Linked DNA regions of Homo sapiens. The protein of the gene in region 1 purifies or fractionates together with the protein of each later gene. This does not show direct contact. Each region holds a gene or a part of one and is shown on either strand. Other genes may lie near its edges.

What was found.
Region 2: the proteins of PPIP5K2 (region 1) and NUP88 purify together in Homo sapiens (affinity purification with mass spectrometry; 2 studies listed by BioGRID). This does not show direct contact.

The regions. Positions count from the first base shown.
Region 1 is NC_000005.10:103,123,125-103,130,465, forward strand, and holds part of PPIP5K2 (inositol hexakisphosphate and diphosphoinositol-pentakisphosphate kinase 2), read left to right. Parts: intron 1-6,181; 5' UTR 6,182-6,465; coding exon 6,466-6,579; intron 6,580-7,341. UniProt on the Homo sapiens protein: Bifunctional inositol kinase that acts in concert with the IP6K kinases IP6K1, IP6K2 and IP6K3 to synthesize the diphosphate group-containing inositol pyrophosphates diphosphoinositol pentakisphosphate, PP-InsP5, and bis-diphosphoinositol tetrakisphosphate, (PP)2-InsP4.
Region 2 is NC_000017.11:5,409,582-5,416,922, reverse strand, and holds part of NUP88 (nuclear pore complex protein Nup88), read left to right. Parts: intron 1-240; coding exon 241-410; intron 411-2,788; coding exon 2,789-2,914; intron 2,915-6,133; coding exon 6,134-6,220; intron 6,221-7,341. UniProt on the Homo sapiens protein: Component of nuclear pore complex.

The DNA.
Region 1 (7,341 bases):
AAACTGTCATAACAACATTTAACAAAATATTAAACATCTAACATTTACTGAGTGCTTAATATGTGCTATTTGCTGTGGCATCTGTATTGCAATTGTCAAAACAATATATGAGATTCATAATCCCATTTTACAGATGATGACTAGAGAGGTTCAATAACTTGACTAAGGACACAGAGCTGAGCAACTTGCAGAAAAAGTTTTCAAACCCAGTTTTGAGTCTAGAGCAATTGTTCTCATAGTGTGATTCCAGGACGACGAGCAACATCAGCATCACCTTGGAACTTTTGGAAAGGCAAAATATTGGGCCCCACCCCCAGAGTTTTGAGATTAGTATTAACAAGCCCTACAGGTGATTCTGTTGCATGCTAATGTTTGAGAACTACTGCATTGAGTGTGGACATTTTTAGTAGCATAACACTCATTTCAGATTTAGAAATCAGGTTTAAGGGATATTTGTCTTTTGTACAGTTAGATTCCCAAACCTGGCTGCTCATCCATTTGTAAAAATACAGTTTTTCTAGTTAAGAATTACTGTTTAGGAATTCCTAATCTGTGATAAGCCCAGTAACTTGTGTTTTTACAAGTCTACCAGATAATTCTGATGTAACCAGTCCATTTTGGGACCACTGCTATAGAAGGAATTCTAAAAATAAAGTAAGGTTCAACACTGATATTTGAATAATGTATGTATCTTTATGCCCAGACAGTTAGCATATGTTGAAATTAATGACTGAACATTGATCAAAATGCTAAATAATATGGAAGTGCTATATGTATAAACTGTACTTCGTTCAAGTATCAGCGCTTTAAGTGAAATAATACAAACCATTTTGAATGTCCTGCATCTCTTATGATGCTCATAAAATCTCATCTTGGCCGGGCGCGGTGGCTCACACCTGTAATCCCAGCACTTTGGGAGGCCGAGGCGGGAGGATCACGAGGTCAGGAGATTGAAACCATCCTGGCTAACACTGTGAAACTCCGTCTCTACTAAAAATACAAAAAATTAGCTGAGTGTGGTGGTGGGTGCCTGTAGTCCCAGCTACTTGGGAGGCTGAGGCAGGAGAATGGTGTGAACCCGGGAGGAGGAGCTTGTAGTGAGCCGAGATCGTGCCACTGCACTCCAACCTGGGGACAGAGCGAGACTCCATCTCAAAAAAAAAAAAAAAATCTCCTCTTGTACTACGACATATATCCTACTTAGGTGACAGAAATGTATTTGAATTTATTTTATATTTTTAGTTTTCTGAGAATTTATATTTGCCATGCTGTCATAAGGACTGTGGAGTCCTCATTTTTGCTCTTTAGTATAATGGCCTTTGGTTTAAACAGACCTGGGTTTGACTTCCATTTGCAACCCTTATTGGCTCTGTGATGATGATCAAATTACCTGAACTTTCTGAACCTCAAGTCTTAATTTATAATGACAAAATGGACACATATCTACATACATAAAACATTTATAAAATGAAGAATATATTTCTAATTCCAGGATGGCTGTGAGATTGTTAAATCACAAAGTAGTAAGTAATTTCTTCCCAACTTTTTTCATATTAAGGCATACCTAGAAAATGGTAGTATTTGTACAGTATCCTGGGGAAACTGAAGAGAGTGCTACTGGAAGCAACTGGCCAGGGTATAACAGCTGCCTTAAAGGCTGAGGCAATTAATTTCTTGGCATACTTACAATTCATTTATGGTGAGACAACATGTTGGGAGGCTCTGAATTTACAAGTAAGGTACTTACTAGGTAACAGTGCCTAATAAATGTTCCTTCCCTTGAGATTTATGTTGTGGAGGGATATACATAACCCAAGCTGTTAAATAACAAGGTTATATGTGACCAAAGGTCAAAACGAATGATTCGGAGAAGGTCTTGTAAATTGTTAAGGCAAGTTTTGTAGAGGAGTATCTATTGGATACTTGAGATGTGCCAACCACCAGAAGACAAAAATTCTGCTTCATCGGTTTTATCTCCTTTTTATTATAGGAAATTTCCTATAGTACTTGTTTTCAAAAACTGGTTCTCAAACTTGGCTACACATTGGAATTACCTGGGAAGACTTAAAATTACCCGAACTCTACTCTCAATCATTTTGATTTAAGTGATGTGGAGTATAGCCTAGACGTTGGGATACAAGCACTCTTAGTATATTATCTTACATATAACATCATTAAAATGACCTATGAGCTATGTACAATTTACAGATGAGGAAATTGAGGCCATAAGAAGTTAACTCACTTGCTCAAGATCAGCTAATTGGAGTCAGTCAGGTTTTAAACCCAGGTATTTTAACCCCTGAATCCATGCTCTTAACCACTAGCCTGTTCAGTTTTTTTTTTTTTATATGACATCTCTAAGTATCTCTCATATACTAAAGTGGAATAACAGAAAAAAAAAGAAAGGCTTCCTTCACTTTATGTCCTTTAGAGGTCCAATTCCTCTGTCCATCTTTTATAAACTCTTCAAAATAACTGTCTGTATAACTTGTCTGTATTTCATCTCCTTCTATTTTCTTGTTTGTTTGAGACAGAGTCTCACTCTGTTGCCCAGGCTGGAGTGCAGTGGTGCAATCCCGGCTTACTGCAACCTCCACCTCCAGGGTTCAAGTGATTCTCCTGCCCCAGCCTCCTGAGTAGCTGGGATTACAGGCGCATGCCACCATGCCGGGCTAATTTTTATATTTTAGCAGAGACGGGGTTTCACCATGTTGGCCAGACTGGTCTTGAACTCCTGGCCTCAAGTGATCCGCCTGCCTCAGCTTCCCTAAATGCAGTGCAATCACATTTAACAAATTGAAAATTCTTACTATGGCTTCTCAGTCCTTTGTGTGCATCTTAGCTACTTATCTGACATGATTTTTTACCATTTTTCCTTTGCTTGCCTGCTCTGCTCCACCTTACTCTTTCATGAACATGGGAAATATGCCAAGCATACTTCTGCTTTAGAGGCTTTATACTTGATGTTTCTTACCTGGAATGTTCACACCATATAACCCCATGGTTGGTTTCTCATTTAAATTAAATTTATATTTAAATGTCACCTTATTAAAGAGGTCTTTCTAACATGTATTTATTTGTTGATTTACCTAGTCCCTCACCAAATGAATGAATGAGACATGTTTCAGACCTAAGGTCATAATCAAATGAGGGACATATATCTATATACTTCATACAGCATTACAGACTTAAACAGAACTTGAATAAGTTAACAAAAGGGGACAGACCAGTCATTAATTCATACCCTTGGGAAAAAAAAATCTATTGGATACATACTTTTTTTTCCCCGAAAGTTGATTTCTACTTACACACATATTTTGTAAAGTATTTCAAAAATGTGGGAGAATTATATTGAAAAGACTATGTATTAGTCAGGGTTCTCTAGAGGGACAGAACTAATAGGATAGATATAGCTACAAATGGGAGTTTATTAAGTAGTATTAAGTCACACGATCGATCACAAGGTCCCACAATAGGCCATGTGCAAGCTGAGGAGCATGGAAGCCAATCCGAGTCCCAAAGCTGAAGAACTGGGAGTCTGATGTTTAAGAGCAGGAAGCAACCAGCACAGGAGAAAGATGCAGGCTGGGAGGCTAAGCTAGTCTATCTAGCCTTTTCACGTTTTTTTTTTTTTTTTCTGTCTGCCTTATATTCTAGCTGCACTGGCAGCTGATAAGATGGTGCCCACCCAGATTAAGGGTGGGTCTGCCTTTCCCGGAACACTGACTCAAATGTTTATCTCCTTTGGCAGCACCCTCACAGATACACCCATGATCAATACTTTGCATCCTTCAATCCAATCAAGTTGACACTCAGTATTAACCATCACAGAATAGTAGGAAACACAGCCCAATAGGTCTGCACAGCTACAACCATTAGTTCTGCCATTGTGTCATGGACTTATTAACTGATTCTTTAAATTTTATTTGTATGTATTCCAGACTTTTTCCAATGAATACTCTAAAAGGCTAAAAAAAATTAATTTTCAGCTTTACCTCTAAAACAGTATTGTTCTCACTTTGTTAGAACACTTTAACTAGAAGGAAGTACAATACAGTTTTAAAATAATGTCATAAAATGTGTGTATACACACTCATATTCATGTATGTATACATATAAGTACATACCTATATATTGCATTGACATACTGGACCTGGCATTTCCTATCATTGCCATTCTGAAGTAGATAGACATTTATTACATTATTACATGTTTCTATTATCTTTTTTATTGGTGGTTTATCACACTAAAACAGAAAATGTCAATTTATTTGGCTATCTTCCTACTAGACTAAAAGCTCCTTAAGGAAAAGAGCCATGTTTACTTTGACTTTATATAACCAGCACTTAATACTATGCCTTCTATAATAAGTAAATAGTGTTTGTTGGATAACTATATTCATTTCAACAAATAATGAACAATTCATTCTTTTAGATTTACATGTTAGAGTCAGTAGGGAGTTTGGTTTACAGGAGTGTTCATGGAAACTATGGTTTATTGAGTGTTTAATATACGCCAAGCACTTATGCTATCTCACTTAGTCTTTACAGGGTTACAGGGTGTTACTATACTCCCTTTTTTATAGACTAATAGCAACTAGCACAAGTCACTAGTTAAGCACTGACAGATTAAAACAGATGTACCTGACTCCAGAACATTCCCCTTCCATTATCGAAATATTTGAGCTGTTTTTAGATGGAAAGAGTAAAAAAATTGAAAGAAACCAAGAGATATTTGCCATTTGATAGGAAACAGAACTGAGATCAACTTATCCACCAACATGAAGTTTTACAGCCACTGGAAACTTTCTGTTGTTGTTGTTTTTTTTTTCAGTAAACATTTTTACATGTTAAACAGTACAGAGGAATAGAACAAAAGGCATTGATTTATAAAGTAAATTATTTCTGCTTTTATTTTTAAATTACAAATTATTTTAAATGTAACGCTGTATTTTAAAGATGGTTAAAGTGAAGGCTGACTGGGCAAATTGATTTTAATGTCTACTGGGGAGTCACCAAGTTATACTGGAATTAGATCTTTAGGAATAGAACTTTTGGAGTTATGCTTTTAATTCTACCTAGCATATTGTTTGACTTTTAAGAATATTTGATCAAGTAATTTATTGTACTACCAGTAATCAAATGAAGCATTTGTTATGTAGTTTCATCTTGGTATATAATTAATTTTAATATGACCAGGAAGCAAGTACATGTAAACAACTATGGTAAGGAATATTTTGAGATGCTACTGCTCTTATAGTTCTTATTTATTTATTTATTTATTTATTTATTTATTTATTTGAGACAGAGTCTTTCTCTGTTATTCAAGCTGGAGTGTAGAGGCACAGTCATAGCTCCCTGCAGCCTCAAACTATTTGGCTCAAGCCATCCTCCCACCTTAGCCTCCCAAGTAGCTGGGATTACAGGTGTGAGCCAATGAGTCCAGCTATGATAGTTCTTTAACTGATACTCATGGACGCCTGGTTATGTGGAAGAGTTTGAATGTCAGTGAATCACATAAAATTCTTGCAGAATTTAGTGCACATGTACTTTTTTTTTCTGGGGAGGAGATCCATAGATTTTATTAGATTTGTTAAAGAGTTTTTGACTTCTACATGTTTAAGAGCTGCTGTTAAATGAAATCTTGTTCTGACTCTAATCTTTTTTTGTTCATTTATGTATGAGACCAGAATATAGAATTGTTATGTTCCCTAAAAAAACTGTTTACAGACAACTTTTACAAATTGACTTAATGTAATTTCAGATTAATATTTGTCAGTGGCTTTTAAAGCTGCATTCCATTTGTCTGTTCTTTTCCATTCCATTCAGATATTTCATAACTATGTGCTAAGAGATTTAGCTTTAATATAATTTTGTTATAATTTGAGTAATTTTCTCTTAATTAGTTTAGCTATTTTGGGATGAGGAATTTAATGTGTAGTCTTTTTGTTAATTCATATGTTTGTCAAATTGCTAAGATGTATATTACTGAAGATCAGTTTTAGTTTCTTAATTTTTTTGCTTTTATTATAAGTAATTTTCTTATGGGAGAAAATGTATTTTCATTTTGACAATATACATCAAGTTATTGGGCTGATTTTACAAGTGTCATTAAAAATTATTTTTTACATGAATGTTTTTGGAGTGCACTCTCCAAAATTAGTTTTTTCATTGCATTTTAGGTAAGAAGATTGCTGTATCAACTCAAGAAAGCAGTAACTTCACTGTCTTTGTATTTTGAATTGCAACAACAACTTTGATATCAACAATGAAGCAATGATATCTAAGAACAAAAGAGTATTTGCCAACAGTCATCATAATATCAAGTGATTGTATAAGCAGAAACAAGCTGTCACAGACCTGTGCGTCAGCTAATATATGGAGAATGCTTTCTTCTGATACTATTTACTTAGAGGCAGTTTTAATATAAATCATTTCAATTATATCTACATCAAATAAAATAAAAATGAGTGAAGCCCCCAGATTCTTCGTTGGACCAGAAGATACAGAAATAAATCCTGGAAATTATCGACATTTCTTCCACCATGCAGATGAAGACGATGAGGAGGAAGATGATTCTGTAAGTTGTTTGTTTTTCCTTTGGCGAGAGAAGACCAATACAGTATAGGCTTTTTACTAATCACTGTTAGTCTTTTTTTGTTGGAAAATTTTTGAACTGAAAAAGTATATTTTGTTTCATGACTGATGTTGTTGAATCTATGATGAATCAATAAATACAGTTATGGGTCAAACCTTTATGTTGTTTAATGATGCCTATTTTAGTTTCTTTCAGTGATACGCATAGTGTAACTCAGTGTTAGGTAACAAAAGTGGCAAAGAGAAACAGTAATCTGGGCCATAAATCCAAAAGCTTTCTTGTATGTAGAAATACATAACAAATAATTGAAGATAGGTGGAAGGAAATAATTTTAAAGTTACAAAAGAAGAAGGATTACTTAAATAGATTCATTAAGCTTCTGTTACCAATGTGAGTTCTGGTTGAACCGAAGATACTCATATTTATTAACTTCAGAAGTCTGAAAACTGAGTGGCTAGAAGGGTAGGCTACCTAAAAAGTATCTATGTGTTTGTGTGTGTGTCTAAAACTTGTTCTCTTTCTGATATCATGTTCTATCCATACTGGATCTTAGGAATGATATATATTTATTATGCTCATTTTGCTATAGTTACATTAGACCAATATTTTTCTTACTCATCATTTAATTTTTTAAGTAGAGATTGCTTTACTGTGAATACTGATTTAAAATACAGACCTACAGTATGTGTTTGTTTTTCATATATTTCTAATTGGAAAGAGAATTTAGTTTTAAGAGAAAAACCT
Region 2 (7,341 bases), on another chromosome or scaffold:
TTGAACCCCCATAGTAAAGTCTGCAGTGGGCTGCCACTGCACTCCAGCCTGGGTGACAGCAAGACTCTGTCTCAAAAAAAAAAAAAAAAATTTGTGAGTTAATGGTACAAGTGTGAGTACTTATCCAGAGTTTTATTATCCTATAATTGTAGTAAACTAAGTATTACTGTGATTTCAAGTAACTGCCACCTATATTTAAATTAAAATTAACTATGTTGACTGGTTTGCTCTAATTTTCAGAGATTGCTTTGCATAAATCCACCCCTGTTTGAAATCTATCAAGTCTTGTTAAGCCCAACACAACATCATGTAGCACTTATAGGAATAAAAGGACTTATGGTATTAGAATTACCTAAAAGATGGGGGAAGAATTCTGAATTTGAAGGTGGAAAATCAACAGTGAATTGTAGGTAAGTTGTATACTATTTATCTGTATAATTTATTATATATACAGAAAATTGTTCAAGACTAGTGGTTCTTAAGCATGTTTAGTATACTACTCTTAAAACATTAAAACACTCCTCGTGGTCTGCAGACTGGCTTCTGTGTTATCAATGTTCATAGTATATGTGTAATTGATTGTACTTTATTCTGCCTGAAGTACCACGTTGCTGTCTCATTTGAGGCTAGGCCATTCTTTCGATTAGGTAGAAGTAAGATTTTGTAAAACCAGTTATCTGTCAGCCAGAAGTTTGCCAGAAGTGTAAGTATTTTATGTGTGTGTGTGTGTGTGTATGTGTGTATATATATATATACTTTTTTTTTTTTTTTTTTTTTTGAGATGGAGTCTTGCTCTGTCACCCAGGCTGGAGTGCAGTGGCACAATCTCGGCTCACTGCAAGCTCCGCCTCCTGGATTCAAGCGATTCTTCTGCCTCAGCCTCCCGAGTAACTGGGATTACAGGCAAGCGCTACCATGCCCAGCTAATTTTTGTATTTTTAGTAGAGACGGGGTTTCACCATGTTGACCAAGCTGGTCTTGAACTCCTGACCTCAAGTGATCCACCCACCTTAGCCTCCCAAAGTGCCGGGGTTATAGGTGTGAGCCACCGCACCTGGCCTATTTTTATATAATTTCTTTTTCAACAAATCCAGAAAAGTGAATCTGAAAGATCTACTGAAAAGAGTACAGATGCTTTTCAACTTACGATTGGGTTATGTCCCGATAAACCCAGTGTAAGTTGAAAATGGATTTATTGCTGACAACACAGCAGAGGATCCCCGATTTAGGATGGTTCAACGTAGGATTTTTCAACATTATGATGGGTAACCCCATCATAAGTCGTAAGGAGCTCCTCAGTTTATGTTGGCTTATGTACTGGTAAACCCATTGTAAAGTTGGGGATCATCTGTATAAGGTAGAAACTGCTTTTAGCTCCGCAACTTATAAGTTGAGTCCCCTTAAACTGTTTACCTTCTAAATCTGTTTCCTCATTTTAAAAATAGGATTGATAATATCTGCCCTTGTAATTTCCTTACAGGGTTAGTAAAAAGATCAAATGAGATACTATATCTGAAAACACTTGTACTGTATAAATATGTATCAATCCTAAGTCAAACCATCCTAAAATGTATATATACGTATGAAATATGCTATAATTTGGAGCCAGGCACGATGGCTCACACCTGTAATCCCAGCACTTTGGGAGGCCGAGGCAGGTGGATCACCTGAGCTCAGGAGCTTGAGACCACCCTGGGCAACATGGTGAAACCTCATTTCTACTAAAATACAAAAAATAAGTGGGGTGTGGTGGCACACGCCTGTAGTCCCAGCTACTCAGGAGGTTAAGGCACAAGTATTGATTAAATCCAGGAGGCGGAGGTTGCAGTGAGCAAAGATCACGCCACTGCACTCCAGCTTGGGCCACAGAGTGAGACTTCATCTCAAATAAATAAACAAATAAAATTTAAATAAATAATTTAAATTATTAAAATAAATAAATTATTTATTTATTTTGAGACAGAGTCTGGCTCTGTAGCCCAAGCTGGAGTGCAGTGGCGTGATCTCAGCTCACTGCAACCTCCTCAGCCCGGGCTGGAGTGCAGTGGCACAAGCTCAGCTCACTGCAGCCTCCACCTCCTGGGTTCCAGCGATTCTTCTGCCTCAGCCTCACGGGTAACGGGTTACAGGCATGTGCCACCACACTTGCCTAATTCTTGTATTTTTAGTGGAGACGGGGTTTTACCATGTTGGCCAGGCTGGTCTCAAACTCCTGACCTCAGGTGATCCACCTGCCTTGGCCTCCCAAAGTGCTAAGATAGGCGTGAGCCATTGCGCCCAGCCAGTGTGCTATAATTTAGAAGATATTTTTATTTCAATTCTTTGATATTGATTGAATAGATGCCTTGAATGTCCTCTCAGCATGATTTCAGGGAAATAAATCTGAAGGAAAGAGAATCAAAGAGTGTTAAAATAGAAATTTCTTCAGGGCCTGGCGTGGTGGCTCATGCCTGTAATCCCAGCACTTTGCGAGGCCGAGGTGGGCAGATCACCTGAGGTCGGGAGTTTGAGACCAGCCTGACCAACATGGAGAAACCCCCTCTCTACTGAAAATACAAAGTTCGCTGGGCGAGGTGGCAGGTGCCTGTAATCCCAGCTACTTGAAAGACTGAGGCAGGAGAATCACTTGAACCTGGGAGGCGGAGGTTGCAGTGAGCCGAGATTGTGCCGTTACACTCCAGCCTGGGCAACAAGAGAGAAACTCCATCTGCAAAAAAAAGAAGTTCCTTTAGAAGATTTTCATCCAAGTTGTACAAAATGTTTTGGAAAATTATTATCTTTATTTTAGTACCACTCCAGTTGCGGAGAGATTTTTCACCAGTTCCACCTCTCTGACTCTAAAGCATGCTGCATGGTATCCAAGTGAAATCCTGGATCCCCACGTAGTGCTGTTAACATCAGACAACGTAATCAGGTAAATTTTATTTCTCTCTCTTGAAGCCTTGCGAGTGGGAAAGCTCTGTTTCTGTTTGCCAATTAACAGCTCAACATAGAACGAAGTGAGTCATTGAATGAGTCAGTGCTTTTATTGGATGGCTGTTGTAACCCATTCTCAATCATAAGAATTGCCTAACTGCTCTAACTTACCACTATTCCTTCTCAACTAGTCTTCCTGCCTCCAGGTATCTCCTCTCCTAATCTGACACCTTAGAATAATCTTTCCAAAACTCTTTCATCATTGTCACCCTTTTGGTAATAATGTAGCATAAAGGAAAGAGAATGTAAGTGTAAATTTAGAGATTTGAATTATTGTCCCACCTCCTTTTCTGTTATCTTTGAGATCTTGAGCTTTTTAGGGGTTGGGGGGCTCAGTTTCCAATCTTTTAAATTGAGCAGGTTTGATTCAATAGTTTCTAACGCCCCTTCCAAGCTTTGCACTCTATGATTAAATGCCCTAATGCTACGTAGATTTCTACTCTATTATCAGCTAACTTTCTGGATCGGCCTTATGTAAAAAGTTATTGGGGGGACTCAGCAGAGGTACAGATACCTTCAGTTTTATTTTTCGTAATCACTGCTTTTAACTGTGCTCTACTAAATCTTCCTTCACTGCTGAATGACTCACCCCTTAATGATGTCTTATACAGATCCCCATAGCTTTCTCGTTACTTCTAGTTATGAAAACAGTGTGTCCAGTTTAAAACTCATCTTGGCTGGTTGCAGTGGCTCACACCTGTAATCCCAGCACTTTGGGAGGCCGAGGTGGGAGGATCATTTGAGCCCCTGAGTTCGAGACCAATGTGGGCAATACAGTGAGATCCTGTCTCTGCAAAAAAAATTAGCTGGGCATAATGGCATGTGCCGGTAGTCCCAGCTACTCAGGAGACTGAGGTAGGAAGATTGCAGCCTGGGTGACAGAGTAAAACCCTGTCTAAAGAAAATAAGAATGTCGAAAGCTATTTGATCTCAAATCTTTCACAACTATGTCCTGGCCCTTTTGTAGGTCAGACCTGTGTTTTGTGGGATCAGAAGTGATTGGAGAGTGTGCGGTCTGCTCTTTCACTCTTCCTGTTATCCCAGCACTTTGGAACATAGGGTGAAGTGTAAGGAATGGGCTGCCCCCTCCTTCCTCCAAATCTAACTCCTTCAGTGTGGGGTAGGGGAGTGGGACAGGTGAGGTAGAGATCTTACCGAACTGGTAGCCTGTGAGTGATGGGGAAGTATGCCTGATCTTGTTTGAATCTCGTTCCATCTGTCACTAGTGAACTCTGTTGATGTGGTAGTCTCTGCATAGATGGTGTGTTTGTGTGTGTGTATGTGGGGGGGTGGGGTGGTGTTGGAGGGCAGTGTTGAACTTCCAGCTCCCCCCATCACTGAGGAGCTCTGGCTCCCATTGGCTCCTGTCAGTTCTCTATGCCCTGAATCTTCTCTCAAGATGGGGTACAGTATACTTTATCTGCAGGGTGTGTGTTCCAAGACCCCCCAGTGAATGCCTGAAACTGTAGATAGTACTGAACGTGATACGTGTGTATTGCTATGTTTTTTCGATCTTATAACTGAGACAGCTACTAAGTGACTAAGGGGCATTCAGCTAGGAAATGCACCAGTCTCCCTTATTACAGGTACCTCCACATCTGGCTGTTTCCTAGAGCCTTCCCTGCCCACCCATTTGGCTTTAGAGTTCAGGGCAGAGAAAGAGGAGAGGGAAAATCTTCCCATTACAAACATTATACTGTACTCCTAAGGAATCTTTGACATCCTCTCTTCTTAGTCTTCCTTTTATATGCTATGATGGAAAAGGAGATGGTGGGAAGATAGCATAGGTACAGTTCTTAAGCCCCAAAGGAAGTATCTGGCCCCAAATATTGAAGGTTCTTTTTTAAAATATGTGGTATTTAACACTTCTGTTTTCCTAAGCTTTGGAGATTTTGGGCAGTTTCAGAGCAAAAGGAAATTTTCACCGAATGCCCTGTTGCACCTTCTTTTTCTTTCACTGTTCCCCAGTACAACATTATTGCCTAGTATTTATGTGTATTTTGAAGTTAGTAACGCTTGTAGGAACCTAGGAAGACTGTAATAAATGTGTATTCAAATGGATCAAGTTATCATTAAAAATTTATTAAATACTTAATGTGGCATTTTATTGATATTGGAAGAAACCAAGTTAAAAAATTCTTAGTGGCGTCAGACAAAATAAGTGATTATAAGGGACACTGGATTTCTAAAATGACATTACTGGCCTTTTGAAAATTCCCTTTTTCACAATAGCCTTATATGCTGTGAAATGTAGGTTACTTTAAATTAAAATAATTTTGGTTAAAAAAATTCAGTATTATACTTTCCCTTGAAAATAGAGATGATACGATACTGGGTTTGTTTGTTTGGTTTTTTTTTTTTTTTTTGAAATGGAGTCTCGCTCTGTCGCCCAGGCTGGAGTGCAGTGGCGTGATCTTGGCTCACTCCAGCCTCCAGCTCACCGCAACCTCCACCTCCCAGGTTCAAGTGATTCTCCTGCCTCAGCCTCCCGAGTAGCTGGGATTACAGGTGTGTGCCACCACACCCAAATAATTTTTGTATTTTTAGTAGAGACGGGGTTTCATCATGTTGGCCAGGCTGGTCACGAACTCCTGACCTCAAGTGATCTGCTCACCTCGGCCTCCCAAAGTGCTAGGATTACAGGTGTGAGCCACCGTGCTTGGCCAATATTGGGTTTTTATATAACAAACACATAAGTAGATTTGCAGGCTAAATATCACTCACTCTGTCAGCCAGTTGGCATATAAAGAATAAGATACAGTTCTTTCTCTGGTGGGATTTGGTGTCCAATAGGCAGAGATAGATGTGTGTAGTTGAAGGAAAACTGGCAAGCTTAGGGGCAATAGTGAGATGACTGGACAAGGCGAGTATAGCTAAGGGCTCAGGACGGAAGTGACAGAGGTGCGATGTTATGGAATAGGCTGTTAAAGGGTATTGGTAAGGATAGAGAACATTTCTTCAGGCCCCAATGAAACTCCCTTATGTAGTTAAAGAATAAATGAACTAGACTACTTTGCAACAGCAAGATTTTTGCAAAGAAATAGTTGTGATAAGTGTTAGAAAATTCTCAAGAACTGACTAGATGGAGAGGAAAGTGCAGTTTTGGGAAATGAAAACAGAATTTTAAGTGCTGGTTTTCTTCTCTTTTGGTTGCTAGAATTTACTCACTACGTGAGCCGCAGACACCCACTAACGTGATAATACTTTCAGAAGCCGAAGAGGAAAGTCTAGTACTCAATAAAGGGTAAGTTTTTATTTGAGTCTTGAAATGGTTTTTTAATTAGCTTATTGGGATTATAAATGCAATTTTAACAGGTTGCAAGGTTTTTCAGAGGTGACTAGCATGCTTTTGGTAATGTGAGAAGTAAGTGTATTTTTAGTAGAACAGGGATTCGTCGTGTTGGCCAGGCTGGTCTGGAACTCCTAGGCTCAAGTGATCCTGCTCGTCTCAGCCTCCCCAAAGTGCTGGAATTACAGGCCTGAGCCACCATTCATTTCTTTATCACCTTTCTATGTGATAAAGAAACTAAGATAATATCTTGCATTGATGTTTGCTCTCTCAACTATATGAAATTGTGATTTCATTTTAACCATATTTGTTAACTTTGTATTGAACTAGAATCTTCCTGAATAACTACAGTAAATTTTAAATATAAAAACAGCATGGTTTTATGATTTGCCTTCTTGATATACATGTAATGTATATTTGCTGTAGAAAATTGAGAAAAATAGATCAAAGTATTAGGAAGAAAATGAAAATCTTTGTAATCTCCTATAGCTATAGCCTGTTTCAATACAGCACCCAAAGTTTAATCACATCATTCTACTTTAATCTAAGTTTAATCAGATCAGTTTAATCAGATCATTCTACTTCCCTGCTCTCCATACCCCATTGATTTCCCAGAGTCTTTACCTATAAAGGGTCCACAGGTATGCCACCTGATTGCCTTTCCAGCTTCATTCCTCCCTCTGTGCCCTGGCTCTCTGGGCTCCAGGCACCTTGGCCTCCTTGCCATTCCACAGACATTAAGCACTTCTACCTTAGAGCATTTGCTCTCCACCTCAACTGCTCCTTCCCTAGTTAACCACAGACTTGCTCTCTTACTTCCTTCAGATCTTTGCTCAAATATCTTATCAGAGTCTTTCCTATACCAAGTAGTCTAAAGTAGCACCTCCATCAATACCCTCTTACCCTACTTTATTTTTCATGATATTTTCTGAGTTTATGTTCCATCTTTATTTCTTCTCTTTTTGTGGTATTTCTCTCTCTAGAGGGCAGGACATTTGTTTAATTCACTGACATATTCCCAGACCCTAGAAAAGTACCTGGCACAGAGTAGGTGCTTTGCGAGTATTTGTAGAACT